Homo sapiens: one gene and its partners. The gene in region 2 interacts genetically with the main gene of each other region. Each region holds a gene or a part of one and is shown on either strand. Other genes may lie near its edges. The genes, in order: B3GNT2, RABGEF1, VPS45, SLC39A9, SEC31A, DEPDC5 and CAND1.

Evidence for each region.
Region 1: changes in RABGEF1 (region 2) and B3GNT2 together harm fitness more than expected from each alone (negative genetic interaction), as found in Homo sapiens cells (one large-scale study listed by BioGRID).
Region 3: changes in RABGEF1 (region 2) and VPS45 together harm fitness less than expected from each alone (positive genetic interaction), as found in Homo sapiens cells (one large-scale study listed by BioGRID).
Region 4: changes in RABGEF1 (region 2) and SLC39A9 together harm fitness less than expected from each alone (positive genetic interaction), as found in Homo sapiens cells (one large-scale study listed by BioGRID).
Region 5: changes in RABGEF1 (region 2) and SEC31A together harm fitness less than expected from each alone (positive genetic interaction), as found in Homo sapiens cells (one large-scale study listed by BioGRID).
Region 6: changes in RABGEF1 (region 2) and DEPDC5 together harm fitness less than expected from each alone (positive genetic interaction), as found in Homo sapiens cells (one large-scale study listed by BioGRID).
Region 7: changes in RABGEF1 (region 2) and CAND1 together harm fitness more than expected from each alone (negative genetic interaction), as found in Homo sapiens cells (one large-scale study listed by BioGRID).

Annotation. Positions count from the first base shown.
Region 1 is NC_000002.12:62,222,673-62,225,231, forward strand, and holds the end of B3GNT2 (N-acetyllactosaminide beta-1,3-N-acetylglucosaminyltransferase 2), read left to right. Parts: coding exon 1-742; 3' UTR 743-2,059; downstream 2,060-2,559. UniProt on the Homo sapiens protein: Beta-1,3-N-acetylglucosaminyltransferase involved in the synthesis of poly-N-acetyllactosamine. Catalyzes the initiation and elongation of poly-N-acetyllactosamine chains. Shows a marked preference for Gal(beta1-4)Glc(NAc)-based acceptors.
Region 2 is NC_000007.14:66,796,233-66,799,732, forward strand, and holds part of RABGEF1 (rab5 GDP/GTP exchange factor), read left to right. Parts: intron 1-385; exon of another isoform or gene 386-501; intron 502-543; coding exon of another isoform or gene 544-660; intron 661-1,141; coding exon 1,142-1,274; intron 1,275-3,090; coding exon 3,091-3,182; intron 3,183-3,500. UniProt on the Homo sapiens protein: Rab effector protein acting as linker between gamma-adaptin, RAB4A or RAB5A. Involved in endocytic membrane fusion and membrane trafficking of recycling endosomes. Stimulates nucleotide exchange on RAB5A. Can act as a ubiquitin ligase.
Region 3 is NC_000001.11:150,077,776-150,081,275, forward strand, and holds part of VPS45 (vacuolar protein sorting-associated protein 45), read left to right. Parts: coding exon 1-4; intron 5-3,500. UniProt on the Homo sapiens protein: May play a role in vesicle-mediated protein trafficking from the Golgi stack through the trans-Golgi network.
Region 4 is NC_000014.9:69,405,192-69,408,691, forward strand, and holds part of SLC39A9 (zinc transporter ZIP9), read left to right. Parts: intron 1-3,500. UniProt on the Homo sapiens protein: Transports zinc ions across cell and organelle membranes into the cytoplasm and regulates intracellular zinc homeostasis. Participates in the zinc ions efflux out of the secretory compartments.
Region 5 is NC_000004.12:82,863,654-82,867,153, forward strand, and holds part of SEC31A (protein transport protein Sec31A), read right to left. Parts: intron 3,308-3,500; coding exon 3,155-3,307; intron 946-3,154; coding exon 709-945; intron 1-708. UniProt on the Homo sapiens protein: Component of the coat protein complex II (COPII) which promotes the formation of transport vesicles from the endoplasmic reticulum (ER).
Region 6 is NC_000022.11:31,841,019-31,844,518, reverse strand, and holds part of DEPDC5 (GATOR1 complex protein DEPDC5), read right to left. Parts: intron 1,425-3,500; coding exon 1,307-1,424; intron 875-1,306; coding exon 707-874; intron 1-706. UniProt on the Homo sapiens protein: As a component of the GATOR1 complex functions as an inhibitor of the amino acid-sensing branch of the mTORC1 pathway.
Region 7 is NC_000012.12:67,317,406-67,320,453, forward strand, and holds the end of CAND1 (cullin-associated NEDD8-dissociated protein 1), read left to right. Parts: 3' UTR 1-2,548; downstream 2,549-3,048. UniProt on the Homo sapiens protein: Key assembly factor of SCF (SKP1-CUL1-F-box protein) E3 ubiquitin ligase complexes that promotes the exchange of the substrate-recognition F-box subunit in SCF complexes, thereby playing a key role in the cellular repertoire of SCF complexes.

The DNA of each region.
Region 1 (2,559 bases), on a different chromosome or scaffold from region 2:
CACTCCACATTTTGCCAGAAGGCAAGCAATCCGGGAATCCTGGGGCCAAGAAAGCAACGCAGGGAACCAAACGGTGGTGCGAGTCTTCCTGCTGGGCCAGACACCCCCAGAGGACAACCACCCCGACCTTTCAGATATGCTGAAATTTGAGAGTGAGAAGCACCAAGACATTCTTATGTGGAACTACAGAGACACTTTCTTCAACTTGTCTCTGAAGGAAGTGCTGTTTCTCAGGTGGGTAAGTACTTCCTGCCCAGACACTGAGTTTGTTTTCAAGGGCGATGACGATGTTTTTGTGAACACCCATCACATCCTGAATTACTTGAATAGTTTATCCAAGACCAAAGCCAAAGATCTCTTCATAGGTGATGTGATCCACAATGCTGGACCTCATCGGGATAAGAAGCTGAAGTACTACATCCCAGAAGTTGTTTACTCTGGCCTCTACCCACCCTATGCAGGGGGAGGGGGGTTCCTCTACTCCGGCCACCTGGCCCTGAGGCTGTACCATATCACTGACCAGGTCCATCTCTACCCCATTGATGACGTTTATACTGGAATGTGCCTTCAGAAACTCGGCCTCGTTCCAGAGAAACACAAAGGCTTCAGGACATTTGATATCGAGGAGAAAAACAAAAATAACATCTGCTCCTATGTAGATCTGATGTTAGTACATAGTAGAAAACCTCAAGAGATGATTGATATTTGGTCTCAGTTGCAGAGTGCTCATTTAAAATGCTAAAATAGATACAAACTCAATTTTGCATAGAAAGGTGTATTTTGAATAGTTCCCATGTTGTGTTCTCACATTAGAGTAATTTCTATATTAAACCATGAAAATTGCCTTTATGAGTGATACCCATTTGAGGGCCTCTAAACCCTTCAATTTGGTACTCACGTGAAGAGGGAAAGCGGAAGATGGTAATTTTTTTTTATGGATGATATGGCAGGATGATTGGTTCTGATCTTACCGGCTAGTGGTCATTTTTAAAAAACTTGTACCCTCTTATCTGAAATCCTGTTTCTGGAATTTGGCCATTTTAAGTGATTTTGTTTGCCCTCTTCTATAATATTCCTACTTCCCATAATAATGACTGATTTATTTGTAATTCAGGTATTTATAAACCTATTGGCTACAAAGACTTTGTTAAACATTATCCAGTGGTTTTCGTGAAATGGAATTATGTTTATTTTTATGGGATTTGGGTAAATTTTAAATTGTCTAGAAAACTGAAATTTCAGTTGTCAGTTGTGGAATTCAGTTTTTCAATTGTGGAAATTTCCTGCCACCCCAACAGTATTTTTGTGTGTTAATTAATTTTGCAAAATGAGAATCATGGTGTGACACTCATCTAATTTATCTTGTTGTGATGTTATGGTCATAATAAGGAGAAAGAGGGTTTAATTTTTCTTGTATTTGGTTTCCTGGTGGTATCATAGTGTAATTTTAGTATTTGAAAATCAGTGTGATTCCTTAATGGCCAACTGAAGATTGAATTGCCGCTAACAACCATATCGTGTTAGTGAATTTTCAATATGGACCAGGAAGGCATATGTATTTTGAACTTGAGTGAAAAGGTTGAAGTTACAGACTTTTGCATAGATGGTTTGTCAATTTAAAATTCCAGAATTTATTATTGCCATATTTTCACATGCTGCTTATACAAGATTATTATTGAGTAGTAACTGCTTCCCTGTCTATGTAGAAGTGCCTGTGTTTTTATTTATTGTTCAGATCAAAGACCAAAACATTTTCTTAAATATATTTTATGTAATATTTTATTTGTATACAGTGTTGTTGATGAAATATTTAACTAGAGCATGATATTTTAAATGTTAAGGTGTAACATATGTTAAATAAAACTGTTATTTTTGAATTTTAAAATTTGTTTTTTGGGGGTATGAACTACTAGAGTTTAAAATTCTGCCAAACTATTACTTATATGTACTATTGTGTAACATACTTTCTTGAAATATTTTTGTTTATAGAATTGAAGGTTCTTATCAGATGGGATACTGGGGACTATAAACAATGGAAATAAAGCCACTGTATTTTTAATTTTTTGTGTAATGTGTAATCTATAATCCTTTTGTTTCCCATATTTGAGAACATTTTTCCCTGAAAGAGGCCAGTTTCCTCCCCAGAAACCATTACAGTAGTGTTGAACTATCACTGTCTCTCAGTGCGTCATCCATCTTTGCATTTAAAATCCCCAAAGTGCTTTCCCATTTAAAGTCTTTAAAGAAAAGTGAGAATATTTATTTATGCTTCCATTTTCAGTGAGTATAAATAATTTAATTAGGGAGTGGTGTGGCATTGTAAAGATTGTGTTATCCTAAGCCATTTCTATTTTGGAGTTTGTAGCCACAAAGATGAAATATAGAATCAGCCTTGACTACTCAATTTCCTTTCATAGACCCATGTTGAGAAGACACTACTAACGTCCAGTGGGAAACAAGTAGACAATTGATGAAGCTCAAAAAACAGAAGGGTTAGTGTTGTAAGAGCAAACAGTCTAATCCTGTTTGGAATGTGGAAGCCATTTCTGAGCAAGTATG
Region 2 (3,500 bases):
TAGTTTAAAAAAAAAAGAGCTTCAAGTTTTTAGGGATTCTTTATGGATTCAACCTTCACTGATACTAGACTTTAGGATATACTTAGCACATGTGTGTGTCAGAGAAATCTCCATTTGTATACCTCAGAGAGCTCTACGATGTTATGGTAAACCTCAGAAAAATGAAAGGATAAGTTTCATCAGCATTCATCAGTCTTGGGAGTTGCAAATGCCTTTGTAATGTAGGACAGGGAGTGACCTTGCTGAAGTCTCCCCATTTGGCAGGGTGTACACTGTTAGGTCCTGTCAGACAACTTCAGTTAGAACTGAGGTTGCTGTGGAAGGCAGCCCAACAGTTGGAAGAAGATTTTTTTGTTTGTTTGTTTGTTTGTTTTTGTCGAGACAGAATATCACTCTGTCGTCCAAGCTGGAGTACAGTGGTGTGACCTCGGCTCACTGCAACTCTGCCTCCCAGGTTCAAGTGATTCTCCTGTCTCAGCCCCCGAGTGGCTGGGATTACAGGTGCGTGCCACCACACCCAGCTAATTTTTGTATTTTTATTAGAGAGGAGATTTCACCATGTTGGCCAGGCTGGTCTTGAACTCCTGACCTCAGGCGATCCACCTGCCTCAGCCTCCCAAAGTGCTGGGAATACAGGAGTAGAGCCACCGCACCCAGCTGGTAAGTTTTTTTTTTAAGCGTATTTTTAAATATAACATTCTTATACTTTTGTTCTGAGTGTGTTTAATTTATTTCTAGTAAATTAGTTTTTTGCTGTGTAGACAGTGCTATGAAAATATACTCTTGGCCGGGCATTCTGGCTCACACCTATAAACCTAGTACTTTGGGAGGCTGAGGCAGGTAGATTGCTTGAGCCCAGGAGTTCGAGACCAGCCTGGGCAACATGGTAAAACCCCATCTCCACAGAAAAAACCTACAAAAATTATTCAGGCATGGTGGCGTGTGCCTGTGATCCCAGCTACTTGGGAGGCTGAGGTAGGAGAATGGCTCGAGCCCAGGAGGTGGAGGTTTCAGTGAGCCAAGGTCATGCTGCTGCACTCCAACCTGGGCGACAGAGCCAGACTCTTTGTTTGCAAAAAAAAAAAAAAAGAGAGAGAAAAAATATATATATCTTGATCTTTTCTCTGTCTGGTTATTTCAGTGCCTCCAGAAAGAGTCGAGAAGATAATGGATCAGATTGAAAAGTACATCATGACTCGTCTCTATAAATATGTATTCTGTCCAGAAACTACTGATGATGAGAAGAAAGATCTTGCCATTCAAAAGAGAATCAGGTAGTTGCTTATTTTGTTTTGCTTTGTAGTTACTACCTTCTAATGGAAGAACACACTGGGGGGAAAATAATGCACCTGTGTTTCAAACCTTAAGGGAAAGCAATAGCTCATGTTCCTGCTTCCTTAGAGTGGAAGCAGCTCTGTTGTGTAAGAAAGACGAGGAATGTGGTGACCTCACCTATCCATCTCCCTCAAGGCAGCTTTTGGTAAGAGTTGTGTTTGGTGTTTGAGATTGTTTTCAATCCCTGAAATCTCCAAGGAATAGGGGGACTGTGTTCTTGGTCCATTACCATCTCCTCAAGTGGGAAGCTGTGAATATCGGTATCAAGGCAGGGGATGTCGGCTGGGCCCGGTGGCTCATACCTGTAATCCCAGCACTTTGGGAGGATCACTTGAGGCCAGGAGTTCAAGAGTAGCCCAGGCAACGTGGTAAAACCCCGTCTCTACTAAAAATACAAAAATTAGCCAGGCATGGTGGCGCACGCCTGTGATCCCAGCTACTTGGGAGGCTAAGGCACGAGAATGGCTTGAATCCAGGTGGCAGAGGTTGCAGTGAGCTGAGATCATGCTACCACACTCCAGCCTGGGCAACAGAGCAAGACTCCTTCTCAAAAAAATAACAAGTCAGTAGATGTCCTCTTTCCTCATTCCTCCCAGGGGTGTGCATTTTTCAGCATTCCCTAGTCACATCTTTCACTGGCATTGGATTGATGACATTTCCCACAGCACCCAGTCTTCCAGGCTCACTGGGGTGAGCCCCAGCACTGTGTACTCCAGTTGCGGTGGACACTGAGGAAGAGACCACCCAAGTGTGGGAACAGGGCCAAGGCTGAGCTGATGAGGTGTTTTAAGGGGAGAAGGGACTCGGAGTCCCAGGTTCCAGACAAGGGGCTGGTACTTGCTAGATCTGTATTGGAAGTTTCATAGCTGAAGTGAGGAGTTGATACTGGGCAGGCTGAAGATGTGGAGCCCAAGGTCAGGAGCCAGAAGTAACTAGAGGGGCCCTGGACCAAGATGCAGAACAGAAGCAGTAACCAAGCAAGAGGGCAGGCCTGCTGCAGGGTAGTTGGAGTGCAGTTAGGGTGGGACCAGGAAACACACAGTGATTCAGGCATGGTGGTCCTGCCCGTGGCCTCCTATACAAGCTCCAGTGTGCCTCAGAAGTTGAGGGTTGAGGCCAGGTGTGGTGGCTCGCACCTGTAATCCCAGCACTTTGGGAGGCCAAGGCAGGCAGATCACCTGAGGTCAGGAGTTTGAGACCAGCCTGGCCAGCAGGGTGAAACCCTGTCTCGTAAAAGTACAGAAATTAGCTGGGCATGGAGGTGGGCGCCTGTAGTCCCGGCTGCTTGGGAGCCTGAGGCAGGAGAATTGCTTGAACCCAGGATGCAGAGGCTGCAGTGAGCCAAGATTGGCACTCCAGCCTGGGCAAGAGTGAGACTCCATCTCAAAAAAGAAAGAAGTTGAGGACTGAGTGTAAAAGGACATTAACGCAGTAGGCAGCGAGGACAGGCAGCAGCCAATTCTCAAATGGTCACTTTCAGATACTGAGTGCATTTCAGTCTTGGTAGCACTGCGTAATGTCATTTCAGTCAGCAAGATGGCCTTCCATTCTTGTGATAAATGCAGAAGTCTCATTTTAGGATCCTAGCTGCTTCATCACGTCATTAGAGCTCGTAGTACTTGCAGGGGTGATGTGTGTGGGCCTGGGATTGAGTGGTCAGTGATGCCTCAGGCTTTCCCTAAACTGAAGGAGGTGACAAGACAAATGGCCACAGTTTATCCTTGGAGCTCTTGTTTACTGTCTCTCTCTCTTTAGAGCCCTGCGCTGGGTTACGCCTCAGATGCTGTGTGTCCCTGTTAATGAAGACATCCCAGAAGTGTCTGATATGGTGGTGAAGGCGATCACAGGTCAGTGAAACCAAGAGCCTTTTTATTGGGATGTTTTCCCCTTAAAGTTAACATTTTACTGTAATATTCATCTATACATTTGTAAAATGCAGATTGTCGAAGGTACATTGGAATGTAGTAAAAGTGATTTGTAAGATTGTTTTATGAATTTGATGGCATTCAGAAGAGCAGGTTCTCTTTTACCCCTTTATTTTCAGGGATTATGGTCTCGTTTCTTGGGCATTAAACTAAACTAAGGTCAAATGCAGATAGAATAAATTTTTTTTCTTTTTTTTGTACTTCTTTTTTTATTTAGTTTTTATTCAGCTGACTGTTCCA
Region 3 (3,500 bases), on a different chromosome or scaffold from region 2:
CCAGGTACAAAACCCTTTCTTGGCATAATAGAAGGATAATTTTAAGTGATATTCATCAAAATACAGATAGGGAAGTAAAAACATGGTCCATTTATTTGCCTCCTTATTTTTAGCTATTCTTGGTTTTGCTTTGTATTTCCTGGTGTTTTGGTATCATGATTCTTCCATCCACTGTCATCATAACTCTTCTGCTTCATCTCTCCTGTACCTTTCTGCCAGTACCTCCACCCCTAATCAAGACAGCTTCTTAATTCTGTAGATTCTATTTCCCTGTGTTTCCTTCTGTCTCCTCATTTCCATGCTTACAGCCATTGCCTTGGTCTAGATCCTAATCTCTTGCAAGAATATTGAAATAGTCATCTACTTCGTTCCCTACTTTTTATTTCTTCTCACTCCAAATGTTCCACAAGTACAATTTCCTAAAGCACAGCTCTATCTTATTACTCTTGGCTTAAAAAACTTCATTGGTTCCCATTTGCCTACTAGGTTAAAAAGAAACTCCTGAACTTGGCATCCAAGAGCCTTCACAATGTGGGCTAAACCTCTTATAAAACCTAGAGTTCACCACTTACATAGATAATGCCACATGGTTTCCTGCCAGCATGCTTTTACTGTGACTGCTTTCTAAACTCTAGAATGTTTGGAATACCTTCTCTTCCCATCTTCACCTATCAAAATACTGCTGTTAAAACCACTCAATCTGGCCGGGCACGGTCGCTCACGCCTGTAATCCCAGCACTTTGGGAGGCCAAGGTGGCTGGATCACCTGAGGTCAAGAGTTCAAGACTAACCTGGCCAACATGGTGAAGCCCCGTCTCTACTAAAACTACAAAAAAATTAGCCGGGTGTGGTTGCACACACCTGTAGTCCCAGCTACTTGGGAGGCTGAGGCAGGAGAATCATTTGAACCCAGGAGGCGAAGGTTGCAGTAAGCTGAGATCATGCCACTGCACTCCAGCCAGGGCGACAGAGCAAGACTCCGTCTCCAAAAATAAATAAATAAATAAATAAAATGATTTATATGAATAATAGCAAAGAATAAAAAAAAGAAGAGCCGGGCGCGGTGACTCACACCTATAATCCCAGCACTTTGGGAGGTCGAGGTGGGTAGATCACCTGAGGTCCTGAGTTTGAGACCAGCCTGGCCAACATGATGAAACCCTGTCTCTACTAAAAATACAAAAAATTAGCTGGACGTGGTGGCAGATGCCTGTAATCCCAGCTACTCAGGATGCTGAGGCAGGAGAATCACTTGAACCTGGGAGGCAGAGGTTGCAGTGAACCGAGATCATGCCACTGTCCTCCAGCCTGGGCAACGAGAGCGAAACTCTTGTCTCAAAAAAAAAAAAAAACACTCAAAAGCCATCTCCAACATCCAGCCATTCTTCAACATCTCGAAGCCTGTATTCTTTCAGTCAGATATTGTTCTTATCTCCTGAAAATCCCTGTAGACTTGTAGACCTTTGTGTCTCTCTCATGTCTCATGCTGTACTTGCCATGTTGTAGCTTTGGTTGTTTACATCCTCTCCTACGTTACATATTTCTTCAAGGCAGACTGAGTCTCACCAGTGTTTTTTCTCCTTCAAGTATAAGAACAGTGCACATAGCGGGTGCTCTATTAATAGTGATTTTGTATGTGTGTATGTATTTATTGAGACAGAGTCTCTCTCTGTCACCCAGATTGGCGTGATCTCAGCTCACTGCAACCTCCGCCTCCCAGGTTCAAGCAATTCTCATGCCCCAGCTTCCTGAGTAGTTGGGATCACAGGTGCACACCCCCACACCTGGCTAATTTTTGTATTAAATATTTTTAGTACAGACAAGGTTTCTGTCTAAATATTGGCCAGGCTGGTCTCGAATTCCTGACCTCAAGTGATCTGCCCGACTCGGCCTCCCAAAGTGCTAAGATGACAGGCGTGAGCCACCACGCCCGGCTGTGACTTTGTATTTACAGAGAAAGGCACAGTCTATGTTTCAGTTTCTTCCCAGCTTGTACTAATGTTAATGCTAAGGGAAATCTGTGGAGTGAAACTTCTCTGTAGTATAAAATAGCCTTGTATTCCTAAAATTCAAAGTAATATATGTTCACCAAAGAAACTTTTGATAATATCAAAAAGTAGAAAGAAAATTAATTGCCTATTATTCTGTCTCCCAAAGAAAAGCAACTATTTATCCCACAGATTTCACTGGGGACTTCTTTTGTGCCACGTACTAAACTAAGTACTAGAGATAAAAGGTTAAAAGTTACAATTTCTGTCCTCAAAGAGCTCATGGTCCAATTATGAGAAAAATAAACATAATTTTAATTGTAGAGTAAGTGCTAGAAGCATGTACAAGAAGCTATCCATAAAAGCATAAAACATTTTGTTGTACGTTTTTTTTTTTTTGAGATGGAGTTTTGCTCTTATTGTCCAGGCTGGAGTGCAATGGTGTGATCTTGGCTCACTACAACCTCCGCCTCCTGGGTTCAAGTGATTCCCTGCCTCAGCCTCCTGAGTAGCTTGGATTACAGGCATGTGCCACCATGCTCGGCTAGTTTTGTATTTTTAGTAGAGATGGGGTTTCACCATGTTGGTCAGGCCGGTCTCGAACTCCCGACCTTAAGTGATCCACCCACCTCAGCCTCCCAAAGTGCTGGGATTACAGGCATGAGCCACCATGCCCAGCCTTGTTGTACTTATTTTAAGTGCGACTTAATGGAACTTGCTTTTTCAAGAATTCCTTTGGCAAATCTTTTAGGAAATAAGCACCTTCTTTTATAACCTTCTAAATTATTTCTTAATAAATCTAGTTTTCTTAAGATAAAATATGTATATAAATATTTCTAGCATTTAGATTCTAGATGCAGAAGGGAACATGCTAGAAAATACTTCATTTTGTCTAACAGACCTATGACTGAAAGTAATCTATTCTCCATAATTGGTGAAAAGGGAAAATTTGGAGATTTCTCATTTCCAGTTTTACCAAATAAATTCTCAATTTGTGAGACTGGAAACCAGTCCTTCCTCTCATCTCCCCTTAGGTAAAAATATAAAATAAAATGGGTTCAAAGGTAAGTTTCTGAATATCCCAGTGTTTTGATCAACTCACAAGGTTTTTCTGATAATATTAGTGTTCCCAGGACAAATATAGTACCACTCAGATCTGCAAGAACACACTTCTCATGCTGCAGAAAACCATAGAAGCATACAGGAAATGGTACAGCTTGTAACTGCAGTACCAATATAGCTCTATCTGTGAAGCCAAAAATATACTCTTAATTCACAGGCAAAAAATTGGAGCTAATAATAGCTCTAATTTGTTTTCTTTCTATCAAGAATATTAATCTTGCTGCCCTTTTTCCAAAAGTATGAAATCTAAAAGTATTTTGACTTTTCTTCAGTGTTTAATCAATTAAAATGACAGTCTTAATGCTTATAGCACAAAGTATGAATAAAATTTAACTCGAGAATCTTCATGTAAAGAAGACTAGTTAAAGAATGTTATCAGTTTTTATTTGT
Region 4 (3,500 bases), on a different chromosome or scaffold from region 2:
CAACCAAACCATATCAGTGTCTGATTATAATAACTGACTCATTCATAATAAGTATCTTTAGGGGTTTGAGTTACCCGCAAATCAAAGGTTTATTGTGTCTGAAGAACAGATTTATTCAGTATGCTTCTGCCTCTACAATAGGTTCTCTTTGAAGTAGATTTAACAATGTTACATTTTTAAGGACTTTTATATTGTCTGGTACATTGCTCTTACCCTCTTATGGTAATACAAGAGATTTTATACCTGTTTGGAATTTCATTTGTAAATTCTAAGATTTGAGCCGGGCATGGTGGCTTATACCTGTAATCCCAGTGCTTTAGGAGGCTGAAGCTGGAAGTTTGCTTGAGGCCAGGAGTTTGAGACCAACCTGGGCAACAAGTGAGACCCTGTCTCAGATGAATGAACGTAAATTATAAAATTTTAAACTTTGCAATCTCAGTAAATTTATCCATATCTGGAAAGAAATCATCAGCTTGTCTTTTCTCAGATTGAACTACAGATTATTGTTTCATAAGGATCCTTGATAAAACTAAGTTTGGATCAAATAAAATCCGGTTGCAATATGATTCAATATTATTTTCCTGAAAAACTTTGTTTTCTCCAGGATACTATATTGATAAACATAATTAAGACTTATCTGCATAATAATATTAATAATGTTTATTGAGCTCTTTCTGTATACCAGGCAATGATATGCACTATCTTATTAATCCTCAGGACCAAGACTATGAGATACTGTTAAACCTCACTTTACAAATGAGCAAACTCAGGCTTGAAGAGGTCACAGACTCTGGTAGAGGTGTGATTTGGAACTAAGTCATTTTGATTCCTGTTGCCAAATCAGTCACTTGACTACTAAATGTTGCCTTTCCTAATGAATGCTGTGTAAAGAAGGAATGAAAATAGGATCTACCTAAATTGATGCCTTTAGCTCCCCAAATTAGGAACATCTTTCATACCTTCCACAGTATATCTCATGCTTTCTGCCTAGTCAGTGGAGTAGAACTTGAAACTCCAGAGGTAAACAGTCTCCAAATACCATTGAAACCTATAAGAAATAAGTTAATATGTCTTAGATGCCTTTTAAATTAACACCTGCCAATTTGGAATCTGAAGTAGTTCCTATTGTGAACTATCCAAGATGAATTTCACACTTGACATCCTCACAGGTTAGTCGTAAATTGTGCTGTTCAAGAAGTGACATCCTTTTCAAGAGAAGATGACATGAAATGGATTCAGAATGTTTCTGTATATGATAGTCTTAACCTCTCCTCTAATTAAAGAATTTAATGATGAGACTTTTGTTGAATGATAAGATCCCCTTCAGCTCAGTATGGAATTCCACACTGGGCTGAGCGCAGTGGCTCACGCCTGTAATCCCAGCTACTCGGGAGGCTGAGGCAGGAGAATTGCTTGAACCTTGGAGTCGGAGATTGCAGTGAGCTGAGATTGTACCATGGCACTCCAGCCTGGGCAACAGAGCGAGACTGTCTTAAAAAAAAAAAAAAAAAGTAGTAGTACTAAGTATGAGTACTGGTATTTCTTAAAACCTATAATGAAATTACAGAAATCTCAGTCTTCCTTGAATACTAATATTCAGTTTTTAACTTATTGAAATAAAATGGAAATAAATATTAGTTAGACTGGAAATTCTTTGTTTTTTTTTTTTTTTTTTTTGAGATGGAGTCTTGCTCTGTCGCCCAGGCTGGAGTGCAGTGGCGTGATCTCAGCTCACTGCAACCTCCCCTTCCCAGGTTCAAGCAATTCTCCTGCCTCAGCCCCCCCAGTAGATGGGATTACAGGTGCGTGCCACCATAACCAGCTAATTTTTTGTATTTTTAGTAGAGACAAGGTTTCACCATGTTAGCCAGGATGATCTGGATCTCCTGGCCTTGAGATCTGCCTGCCTCGGCCTCCCAAAGTTCTGGGATTACAGGCATGAGCCACCACACCCAGCCCTGGAAATTCTTACATGGAAATTCATTTTTAAATGAAAAGGTCTTGAGGGTAACTAATAGATAATTACATCAAACTATCTATTGCAAACCCTGTATTTATCTGACGTTAATTTCCTTCCTTCCTTTCTTTCCTTTCCTTCCTTCCCTTCCTTCCCTTCCTTCCTTCCTTCCTTCCTTCCTTTCTTCCTTCCTTTCTTCTTTCCTTCCTTCCAAATTTCACTCTTGTTGCCCAGGCTGGACTGCAATGGCATGATCTTGACTCACCATAACCTCCGCCTCCCAGGTTCAAGTGATTCTCCTGCCTCAGCCTCCCAAGTAGCTGGGATTACAGGCATGCACCACCACGCCCCACTAATTTTGTATTTTTAGTTAGAGACAGGGTTTCTCCATGTTGGTCTCAAACTCCTTACCTCAGGTGGTCTGCCCGCCTAGGCCTCCCAAAGTGCTGGGATTACAGGCGTGAGCCACTGCGCCCGGCCAATTTTCTTTCTTTTTTTTTTTATTTTGAGACAGAATTTTGCTGTTGTTGCCCAGGCTGGAGTGCAATGGCACGATCTCGGCTCACTGCAACCTCCTCCTCTCAGGTTCAAGAGATTTTCCTGCCTCAGCCTCCCAAGTAGCTGGGATTACAGGCGCCTGCCACCATGCCTGGCTAGTTTTGTAGTTTTAGTAGAGACAGGGTTTTTCCGTGTTGGTCAGGCTAGTCTTGAACTCCCGACCTCAGGTGAATCCGGCCTCCCAAAGTGCTGGGATTACAGGCATGAGCCACCGCACCCGGCCCTGCTATTATATTCTTTACGGTTCTCTCTTAGTCAATTCCTCATCATTCTAGTCCCCTTTTATGCTTTTATAGGTATTCCTTTTTTCTTTCTTTCTTATTTTGAGATGGAGTCTTGCTCTGTTGCCCAGGCAGGAGTGCAGTGGTATGATCTTGGCTCACCACAACCTCTCTCTTTGGGTTCAAGTGATTCTCCTGCCTCAGCCTCCCAAGTAGCTGAGATTACGGCTGCCTACCAACACGCCCGGCTAATTTTTGTATTTTTGGTAGAGACAGGGTTTTGCCATGTTGGCCAGGCTGTTCTCAAACTCCTGACCTCAGTTGATCAGCCCGCCTTGGCCTCCGGAAGTGCTGGGATTACAGGTATGAGCCACCATGCCCAGCCCCCTTTTGTAGGTATTCTTTATGTTAAACTTTCTCTCTTCAAATTACTTTATGCTTTCTCTTTGATGAAAGGACCCTGACTGATAGAGGTAGGTAATGGATCATAAAATCAAATAAGGCTGAACAGAGAATTAAGCCTGGAGTAAAATAAGACAGCCCCAGTGTCATGATATATGGCAGCTGACCTTCAGTGTCAGTGCCTGGGAGTCATTAGGGAGAAGTGAGAACTGTGGGCATCTAAAGGGCACATATCATTTGATGACACCAAATCTTCCTATTTTTCCAAAGCTAGAAATCTGGATTTTTATATGAAGTCTCCTGAATTTTATCCTTTGGCTACTTATTCAAATATTGTATCAGTGCGTGGGCCAAACAACCCA
Region 5 (3,500 bases), on a different chromosome or scaffold from region 2:
AATTATCCTGGTTGAATAAAGCTTACTTTTGAACAGTAATTTCTGTAAATACAAACTTATGTCCAAAGGTTAAACTGATACAAAACTCAAACTATGTGGAATATTCTATGTCCTAAAATTCTTTCCCAAAATTATTACAAAATATAAATTCTTTAATTTTATACTTTAACCTAACTGTATTCAAGACTGCTTTACCTTTGAAAAACCAGTACCGTATAAAGAAACAGACATTCCAGTGGAGGCAAAATGACCAACCAGGAAATTCTATTTGTTATTCTAATCTAACTCCTCTTAAAGTAAAAGGAAAAATGCCTCCAACCTCTCTCCTCTATTCCTCTTCCTCTTTTTTCATTTTCCTTAACTAGATCTACTATAGATGTTAAATATTCTGTTTTCATTATAGTAAACTCTATGTACTCATCTTCAAAATAGGTGTGCTGACTATGTCGCTCTCCTCTAAACAGACCTATTATTATTTTTTTTTACTTATTAAAAATGTATTTCATATTACACTTTTCAAAGCAGAGAAGGAAAAACTCTGGACATAAGTTAGGTTGTATGCTCTTTATAAGGCTTCTTAATTTCATGATGAATTGCTGAAATCACACTTTTTCAATTGTTTCTTTAATAGGAGGACAGATTTAGAATATAAAGGAACAGTTAAATTTGCAGATAATGAAATAATATAGCTTTAAACAGCAACTTTACCTTCAAAAAGGACCACACATTTTTCTCAAATTCAGTCTGAGAAGCATCAATTTTTTTTTGGCAATAATTGATAAATCCTTGTGACTGCACAGCCTGCTGAAGTTGGTCTGATCGGCTGAGGAACTCCTTTTCTGTTACAACCTGACTAATGAACACATGGTGCTGCTGCTGCTGCTGCTCAGCTCCCTGATGAGAAGGCATTCTGACATTCTCAAACGTAACCAGTTTGCCTCCAAACTATAAAAGAGAGAATGAACAAACTCAGTGTTAACCCAAGGATATGGCCAAAAAAAGTGCTTATAAAGTGGCCTAAACAGATAATCTGGATGAAATTAGTTGATACAACCTCTCATGCGCCACAGTCTGACACCACTTCAATTTCTGTTCTAGATGAAATGTACTTTTTTGGTTTTTTGGTTTTTTTTTTTTTGAGACAGAGTTTCGCTCTTAGTCACCCAGGCTGGAGTGCAAAGGTGGGATCTTGGCTCACTACAACCTCTGCCTCCTGGGTTCACGTGATTCTCCTGCCTCAGCCTCCTGAGTAGCTGGGATTACAGGTGCCGGCCACCATGCCTGGCTAACTTTTGTATGTTTAGTAGACAGGGTTTCACCATGTTGGCCAGGCTGGTCTTGAACTCCTAACCTCAAGTGATCCACCCAGATAGAGAAGACCAGATAGGACGATGAGAAGATTAAGCAGATCCAAAGAACAGACTTACGAGTGACATAAAACATATTCAAAGGTCCATTTTAGGAAGATTAATCTTGGAATATGTAGTAGAGATTAGAGGGGGAAAAGACAAGCAACAAATATGAAATCAAGCTATTAGAAGTTTGGCATGAAAGAATTAGGCAAGGTATCAGCAATGTAAAAGGAAGAAACAAACAAAAAGTGCTAGAGAGGATGTGGAGAAACTAGAACCCTTGTGCACCACTAGTGAGAATGTAAAATGGTAAAACGGCTATAAAATGGTATGGAGGTTCTTCAAAAACTTAAAAATAGAACCATCCTATGATCCAGCAATCCCACTTCTGGGTATATGTCCCAAAAAACTGAAAGCAGGATCCCAAAATGATAATTACAAACCCATGTTCACCACAGCATTTATTCACAATAGCCAAAAGGTGGAAGCAACCAAAATGACCATCAAATGAATGGATAAAAAAAAATGTGGTATATATATATATATATATATATATATATATATATATATATATATATACAATGCAATATTATTTGGCCTCTAAAAAGAAGTAAATTCTGTCACACTACAACACAGATAAACCTTGAGGACATTAAGCTAAGTAAAATAAGCCAGCCACAAAAAGACAAGTACTGCATGATTCCATTTATATGAGTAATTTAAAGTAGAAAACTCCTAGCAACAAAGTAGAATGTGGTTACCAGGGATTCAAGGGAAACAGGAAATGGGGAGCTGTTGTTCAAGGGCACAGAGTTTCAGTTTTGCAAGATGAGAAAGTTCTAGAGATCTGTTGCACAACAACGTGTATATAGTTAACACTACTGTAGTATATATTTAAAAATGGTTGTAGTGTATATTTTAAAATGGTTAAGATAGTAAATTTTATATTATGCATTTTTTACAATTAAAATTTTATATTATGCATTTTTTACCATTAAAAAAAGCTGGCAATTAAAAAAGAAAGCTAAAAGGATGAAGAAGAGGGAGGACACTCCCTGCAAAAAGAAAAGAAAAAAAGAAGAAAAGAAAAGAAAAAGAAGGGAGGGAGGGAGGGAAAGAGAGACAGAGGGAGGGAAAGAGAGACAGAGAGAGAGAGAAGGAAGACAAATTTAAAAGGGAGGAGGGCCGGGTGCAGTGACTCATGCCTGTAATCCCAGCACTTTGGGAGGCCGAAGCGGGTGGATCACCTGAGGTCAGGAGTTCAAGACCAGGCCAGTCAACATGGTAAAACCCCATCTCTACTAAAAATACAAAAACCAGCCAGGTGTGGTGGCACGTGCTTGTAATCCCAGCTACCCAGGAGGCTGAGGCAGGAGAATCGCTTGAACCAAGGAGGCGGAGGTTGCAGTGAGCCAAGGTTGTGCCACTGCACTCCAGCCTGTACAACAGAGTGAGACTGTCTCAAAAAAACAAACAAACAAACAAAAAAATGGAGGAGGGGAGGAATATAAAGTGTTGGCTACACAACAACAATGTAAATGTACTTAATGCCATTGAACTGTATATTTAAAAATGAACAAAATGATCAATTTTATGTATATTTTACCATGATTTTTAAAAAAGGGAAAAAAAAGAGTAGGTTCCAATTTTTCAGAGAAACCATTTTGAATGATGAAATACCCACAAGTACATCTCAAATCCCAACTTAAACCCTGATTGCTTCCATCAGAGTGACTCTATAATAACACTTTGGTATAAAAAGTCCTTTGTGCCTATGGACCATAAAAACAAAATCCACCTACTGAAAAAGAAGCACCAACAGGCCTTCGAATCCACTTGGGCGGCTTCTTCAGAGGCAGCACTATACTATGCTGAGCAGTCTGCTGTGGAATTTGTAACGGAGGAAGGGGCTGTCCTGTGCCAAAGGGATCAAGATTCCCAAAAGATGATGAAAGCTAAAAAAGATAATAATAACATAAGCATCCGACCATACACAAAGTTTCATTTTTTTCCAGTCATATCCAAAAAAATTTTTGATCACAATTGTCCAATTAACCAGCATTGTTAATCAGTGAAGTCATTTCAAAATATTACACAACACATACTTTTTTCAGGCATTATAATAGAAAACTTTAACACTTCCTATTA
Region 6 (3,500 bases), on a different chromosome or scaffold from region 2:
AGGCAATCTGCACTGCCACTTGCATCAAGGGCACGTCATCCCTGAGCTTCATGGGGTTTGTTTTTTCAACTGTGGCAAAATACACATAACAAAAAATTTATCACATTAACCTATTTTATTTTTTTGAGACAAGGTCTTGCTGTGTTGCCCAGGCTAGGGTGCAGTGGCACTATCAAGGCTCACTGTAGCCACGACCTCCTGGGCTCAAGCACTTCGGCCTCCTGAGTAGCTAGGACTATAGGGGTATGTCACCATGCCCAGTTAATTTTATTTTTTTTTATTTATTTATTTTTTGAGACAGTTTCACTCTTGTTGCCCAGGCTGGAGTGCAATGGCTTGATCTTGGCTCACTGCAACCTCCACCTCCTGGGTTCAAGCGATTCTCCAGCCTCAGTCTCCCAAGTAGTTGGGATTACAGGCACGCACCACCACACCCAGCTAATTTTTGTATTTTTAGTAGAGACAGGATTTTGCCATGCTGGCCAGGCTGGTCTCGAACTCCTGACCTCAGGTGATCTGCCAACCTCGGCCTCCCAAATTGCTGGGATTACAGGCATGAGCCACCGCGCCCAGTCAACCCTGTCTCTTTACAAAGAAAAAAAAAAAGAAAAAGGGAGAGAGAGAGAAAGGGCAGAAAGTGTTAAAATACACATACACATCCTTGCCCAAGGATGCAAAGATGGAAATCCAAAGCCCACTCTCTGACCTGAAGTCTTCAGAGCCGGCAGAACAGATATACTGATCTAAGTAATTCCACTTGTACTCCTCCAGCCGTTCGTGGGAGAATTCCACCCAGCAGGAGACGAACTCTGAGTCTGAGTGGGAAGGACAGAGGCTGTAGGTGTAGTGGATCTGGGCAGATTCATAAGGATACCTGCAAAATAAAGGGCAGGTCCCCAAATTCAAAAGAGTTAGAGACAAATTCCTGCCAATTCTTATTTTCTATCTCTATACACTTAGAACCATCCTTGACATTTACCCCTCAACTGTAGTAACCAACTTATCCCAGGGAACGGTACTAGAAATTTCTCAGATCTTCTTAAACTCTTTCCTTCTTCTCTCCTCACAATCTTTATTTGAAATAGGCTTGTCATGAATCATGCTAAACATTATAAGATGAATCAAATCCCTTTTGGAAGTAGGTAAGCTATAACCCTAAAATAACCCTAGAAACAAACAAACAAAACTCCAAAAGAAAAACCAACCACTGAACTTCCTCAGTTTGAATGATGTACTATACACACAATTTAGTATGTGGCCATAATTCAGGACAATAACTGAAGACTTTAAATATCCAAATACTCACTTGGGAAGGTATCGCGTCACTGTGATCATCTTATCCTTCAGCGTCACTTTGTGGAACGTTCTGCCCATACTCAGCCAATACTGGTCCTCCTCCTCAGGGCGGTTTCGGGACACAAGGCCTAACAGAAAAATAATAATTTCCTCCATCTGTTTGAAGCTCATTCCTATAACAGACAATTGTTTCTCATCCATATAGATTCAGAAAACAATGTAACACTTTCTCTTAGGGGCAGTTTCATGGAAGAAAGTTATTCTTGGTTAAAAAAAACAAACAAAAAACTCCTGAGGTTGGCAGATTTTTCTGTTATTAAACCAACCAGGAGCAGATTAGAGCCTGAAGGTGCTAGCTGATAGCACCTAGATGGCACACTCAAAGCTGAACAACCTGATACCTCATCCTCTGGAGAGGAAAGTTCTGTAAGAGATGACTGTGTTACTAAAATGGAACTCTACTACACCAGCATAAGCTGCCCACCTTGGCATTCGAGGTTCTCACTCCAAGGTGGCAGCCAACCTAGCTTTCTGGTCCTAGCTCTCACTAATCCTAAACTGCTATACCAAGTTTCAGTCTAAAAGGACCATTTATTGATTTGCTGCAAATATTTGCTCATGTTGTTTCTTTTTTTTTTTTTTTTTTTGAGATGGAGTTTCGCTCTTGTTGCCCAAGCTGGAGTGCAATGGCCCGATCTCGGCTCACTGCAACCTCCACCTCCTGGGTTCAAGCAATTCTCCTGTCTCAGCCTCCCGAGTAGCTGGGATTACAGGCACGCTCCACCACCCCAGGCTAATTTCGTATTTTTAGTGGAGACGGGGTTTCTCCATGTTGGTCAGGCTGGTCTTGAACTCCCAACCTCAGATGATCCACTCGCCTCGGCCTCCCGAAGTGCTGGGATTACAGGCGTGAGCCACCGTGCTCAGCCTGCTCATGTTGTTTCTTTTGCATTCTCTTCCTGGGCCACCACTGAAATCCCAGATCATCTGAAGTCACCATCAAATGCTACTTCTTCCAGAAAGCCATCAGGCCCCATCAGCAGTCTGAATCCTACCTTGTATATAGTTCCTTGTGCGTATATCTGTCACCCCTTACAAATTAAAACTTCCAGGAGGCCAGGGCTCAAACGTTGTTCCTCCTTACATTTTTAGAAGCACCTGATAAAGTGCCATGTCCAGTATTAGCTGAACTGAACTGAACGCAGGAAAGAGGAAAATAATCAGGAATCAAGAAAATGACAAGTGTTCAAGAGAGTAAAAATCATGCCTCAAAGAACAACCAAGCCAAGCCAAGATTCCTTTGATCTAGAAATGAAAGGCAGTCCTCTTGAGGCAGGAGAACAGGGTCTGGAGGCAGGGAACCTAAGACTAATTCAGGCTGACTTCCTAGAACTAAATCAAAAGGAAAACCCCAACTTTCCACACCTAAGTAACAAAAGGACCGGAGGTTACTCCCTTCACAAACCACTCTCCGCTTTTTCTGTGAGGCAGATGGAAAACTGAAAGTGTCTCTGATTGGTTTGATTTTTACAACCAAACAGACGTTTGCATAGAAGTGTAACTTTGTAACTTCACTTCAGCAACCAATCAGACTGATTGCGAGCCACCACTTCATTTACATAGCGTGTACACCAAGTAACCAACGGGACACTTCTAGAAGGTATTTAAACCCTAAAAAATTCTGTAAAGGAGCCCTTGAGCCCCTATGCTCCAGCTCACTCCCACACTGTGGAGTGTACTTTCATTTTCAATAAATCTCTCCTTTTGCTGCTTCATTCTTTCCTTGCTTTGTTTGTGCATTTTGTCCAACTCTTTGAGGTGCCAAGAACCTGGACACCTTCCACTGGTAACACTCATTCAGCTCTGAGACAGTCACACAGTGACAGGCAGCATGTGAGCGGTCAAGAGGAGAGAGGAGGACAGCAGAGGCTGAAATAATATTCACTGTGAATGTGGAAATTTCCCCGATGGTGCCAAGGGAGTAGCAGGCCAGCTGCATACAAAACAGAAGCTACTCAGGGGACCCCAGGTCCAACCCCAGCACTTTCACTTGCCAGCTTGTGTGATCTTGGGCACCAAATCTCACTTTCTACAGCAAGAAAGAGGGCAAGCCCTCATCCAAGCATTCCTTCTTCATTCATGCAACAAACACTCTGCTGGCTGTTGGGAAGACAATGCCATGGGACAAGGTTCATGAGCATCTG
Region 7 (3,048 bases), on a different chromosome or scaffold from region 2:
TTATTGCAAGTGCCTCCTTGCCCAGCCACATGTTGTTGATTTCTTTTTTCTTTTTTTTTCTTTCTTAATTTTTTTTTTTTTTTTTTTTTTTGAGATTGATGGAGTCTTGCTTTGTCTCCCAGGCTGGAGTGCAGTGGCGCAATATCGGCTCACTGCAACCTCTGCCTCCCGGGTTCTAGCTATTCTCCTGCCTCAGCCTCCCAAGTAGCTGTGATTACAGGCGTGTGCCACCATGCCCAGCTAATTTTTGTATTTTTAGTAGAGATGGAGTTTTGCCATGTTGGCCAGGCTGGTTTCAAACTCCTGATCTTAGGTGATACACCCGCCTCGGCCTCCCAAAGTGCTGGGATTACAGGCGTGAGCCACGTCCCCCAGCCAGTTTCTTAATCTATACATCTAGCCCAGTCCATGCCCCTGTTTCAGACTATTATATCCAACCACCTGCTATACATCTCATAAAGGTATCTCAAACACAGCATATCTAAAGCTGAAGTCATCATCTTGCCCTGGTTTTTCCTGTCTCTTTGCTGATGGCATCCCATTTACCCAGTCATTCAAACTGGAAATCTAAAAGCCTCACTTAGCAAGAGTTTGGAGGCAGAATATGATAAAGAACAAGGACTCTGGGAGGCCAAGGCAGGTGGATTGCTTGAGGTCAAGAGTTCGAGACCAGTCTGGCCAACATGGCGAAACCCCGTCTTTGCTAAAAAAACACAAAGAAATTAGCTAGACGTGGTGGCACATGCCTGTAGTCCCAGCTGTGTGGGAGGCTGAGGCAGGGGAATTGCTTGAACCTGGGAGGTGGAGGTTGCAGTGACCCAAGATTGCATGCACCACTGCACTCCAGCCTGGGTGACAAAGCGAGACCCTGTCTCAAAAAAAACAAGGACTCTACAGATAGATAGACATCATATATCATATTAGTTTGAATCCTGGCTGTTAGCTGTTAGACTTGGGCAAATAATTTAACCTCAACTTTCCCTATCTATAAAATGGGAATTAAAATATTTGCACCTTATAGGGTTATTGTGAGGATTAAATAGGAACATTGTATAAAGCACTTAAAACAGTACCTGGGACATACTAAGTAATATAATTGTTAACTCTTACTAGCATTCTGTCCCTTTTATTTCCTAAATATCTCTCATGCCCATCTCCTAAATATCTCTTTCCTAAATATCTCTCATGCTTTTGGCTTAAGACCTCTTTTCCTCCTTATCTATTGACTGGACTGCGGCAAATGCCTGCTAATCGTTATTTTTGTGTTCATTCATTTAGCAAGCCAATTTATTACGCGCTTAGGGTGCTGCCAGGGCTACAAAAGCTGTTGAGACTGTACTTGATATGAAGAAGCTTGCTGATTATCATGGGAAGACTGACATAAGGAAGCACCATAAAATTCTGCTGTATGAGAGGTATACACGGGATACTGGGGGTTAATAATTGAGGGTATGGTCCATTCAACATGAGTGAGACAGAAACAATTCATAAAGGAGATGAAATGTCTTGAGGAATGAGCTCTTAGAAGAATAGTTTTCAAATGAGTGTGCATCACAGTCACCTGTAAGACTTATTAAAACAGATCGCTGGGCCCTACACCCAGAGGCTGTGGTTCAGTAGGCTGTAGTAAACCAGTAATTTGTATTTCTATGACGTTCCCAGGTTCTAATGCTGTTCCCCAAGGCCACACCTTGGAAACCACCACATTAAAATACCCAGAAGGCATTAATTCCCAGTCCTTCCTCTACACAGCTGCAAAACAATGGTCCTGACCATTTCATCTTTGCACTACATCCTTCACTGTCTCTCTTTTGCCCATAGGATAAGTACAAACTAGATCTGGTTACTGCCTGCCCCACCAGCCTCAGCATCTCTCACAACTAGGACTAACTTTTTCTTCTGACAACTATAAAATATTTCCCTTGCCTTCTCAAGTTTGCTCAAGGTCAAGTTATGCCTTTTGCCTGGAATGACTTGACTTCTCTTTTGTTTTACTTAGCTGGCTGCTTTTCATCTTGTAGGTTAGGTCAAGGACTCCAGGAAGTCTTCCCTGGACAAGTAATGAAGAGGGCATAATCCAAGGGCCAACTCCCATGTTTGGAACCTGACTCCATTTTCAGGCACGTAATATTGTCAAATTCCTTTTAAAAGCACCTGTCTGTCTGTTAACGTTGGTGCAGATACTGCTATTCCCCTCCTCCATACCATTGCTGATGGTTACTGAGGGTATGGGAAGGGCCGACTAGTCCAGCTGTTCACAAACAGCCCTTAATGTCAAACTGAATACTGCCAACGTAGTTCCAGTTTCTGTATCTAAAGACTCAGCTTGGAGTCACTTGTCTGGACTAAAAGTAACCCCTCCTTGTCTGGTTTGTGACTTTCTGTACTCTGATGCCCCCAGCTTTCTGCCTTCTAGAAATTTGTCAGAATTTCCAAAATTCTTGGGCCTTCCTTCTTGCTCTATATATGGTTTTGGATTCATTCCTTTTAAAAAATATTTACTGTCATTTCAGTAGAATTTTGACACAATAAATATAAGCACATCAGATTTTTTGCCATCTTGAAGCATCTGTTATTTCTTGGTCTTTGGTAATGCTTTACTGAGAAACATTATAATATAGTTGTAAAAGCTCAGGCTCTAAACCTGGGTTTAAATCTGGTTCTACCACTTCTTGAGAGTGGGACTTTGGGCAAATTATTAATGTATCTAGTGTTACCAGTGGAGGGGCTTGACTACGAATTGTCCAGGTCCTGGGCATTTTGAACAAAGAACTGAACAAAACGCGCAAAGTAGCAGAGGAATGAAATGCAGGAATGAAGCAGCAAAAGCAGGAATTTTATGAAAGCGAGAAAGCACTCTACTGGGTGGGAGTGGGCCTGAGCAAGTGGCTCAAGGGCCCAGTTACAAAGTTTTCTGGGCTTTAAGTATCCCATTTGAGGTTCTTATCATCTACCCCTTATCTGGATGAAGTATTTGGTCTGTGGCTAAAGGCTGAGGTGAATTGGCACCCTATGCACACGAAGAGATGGTCCCTGTGTGGCCCTCAG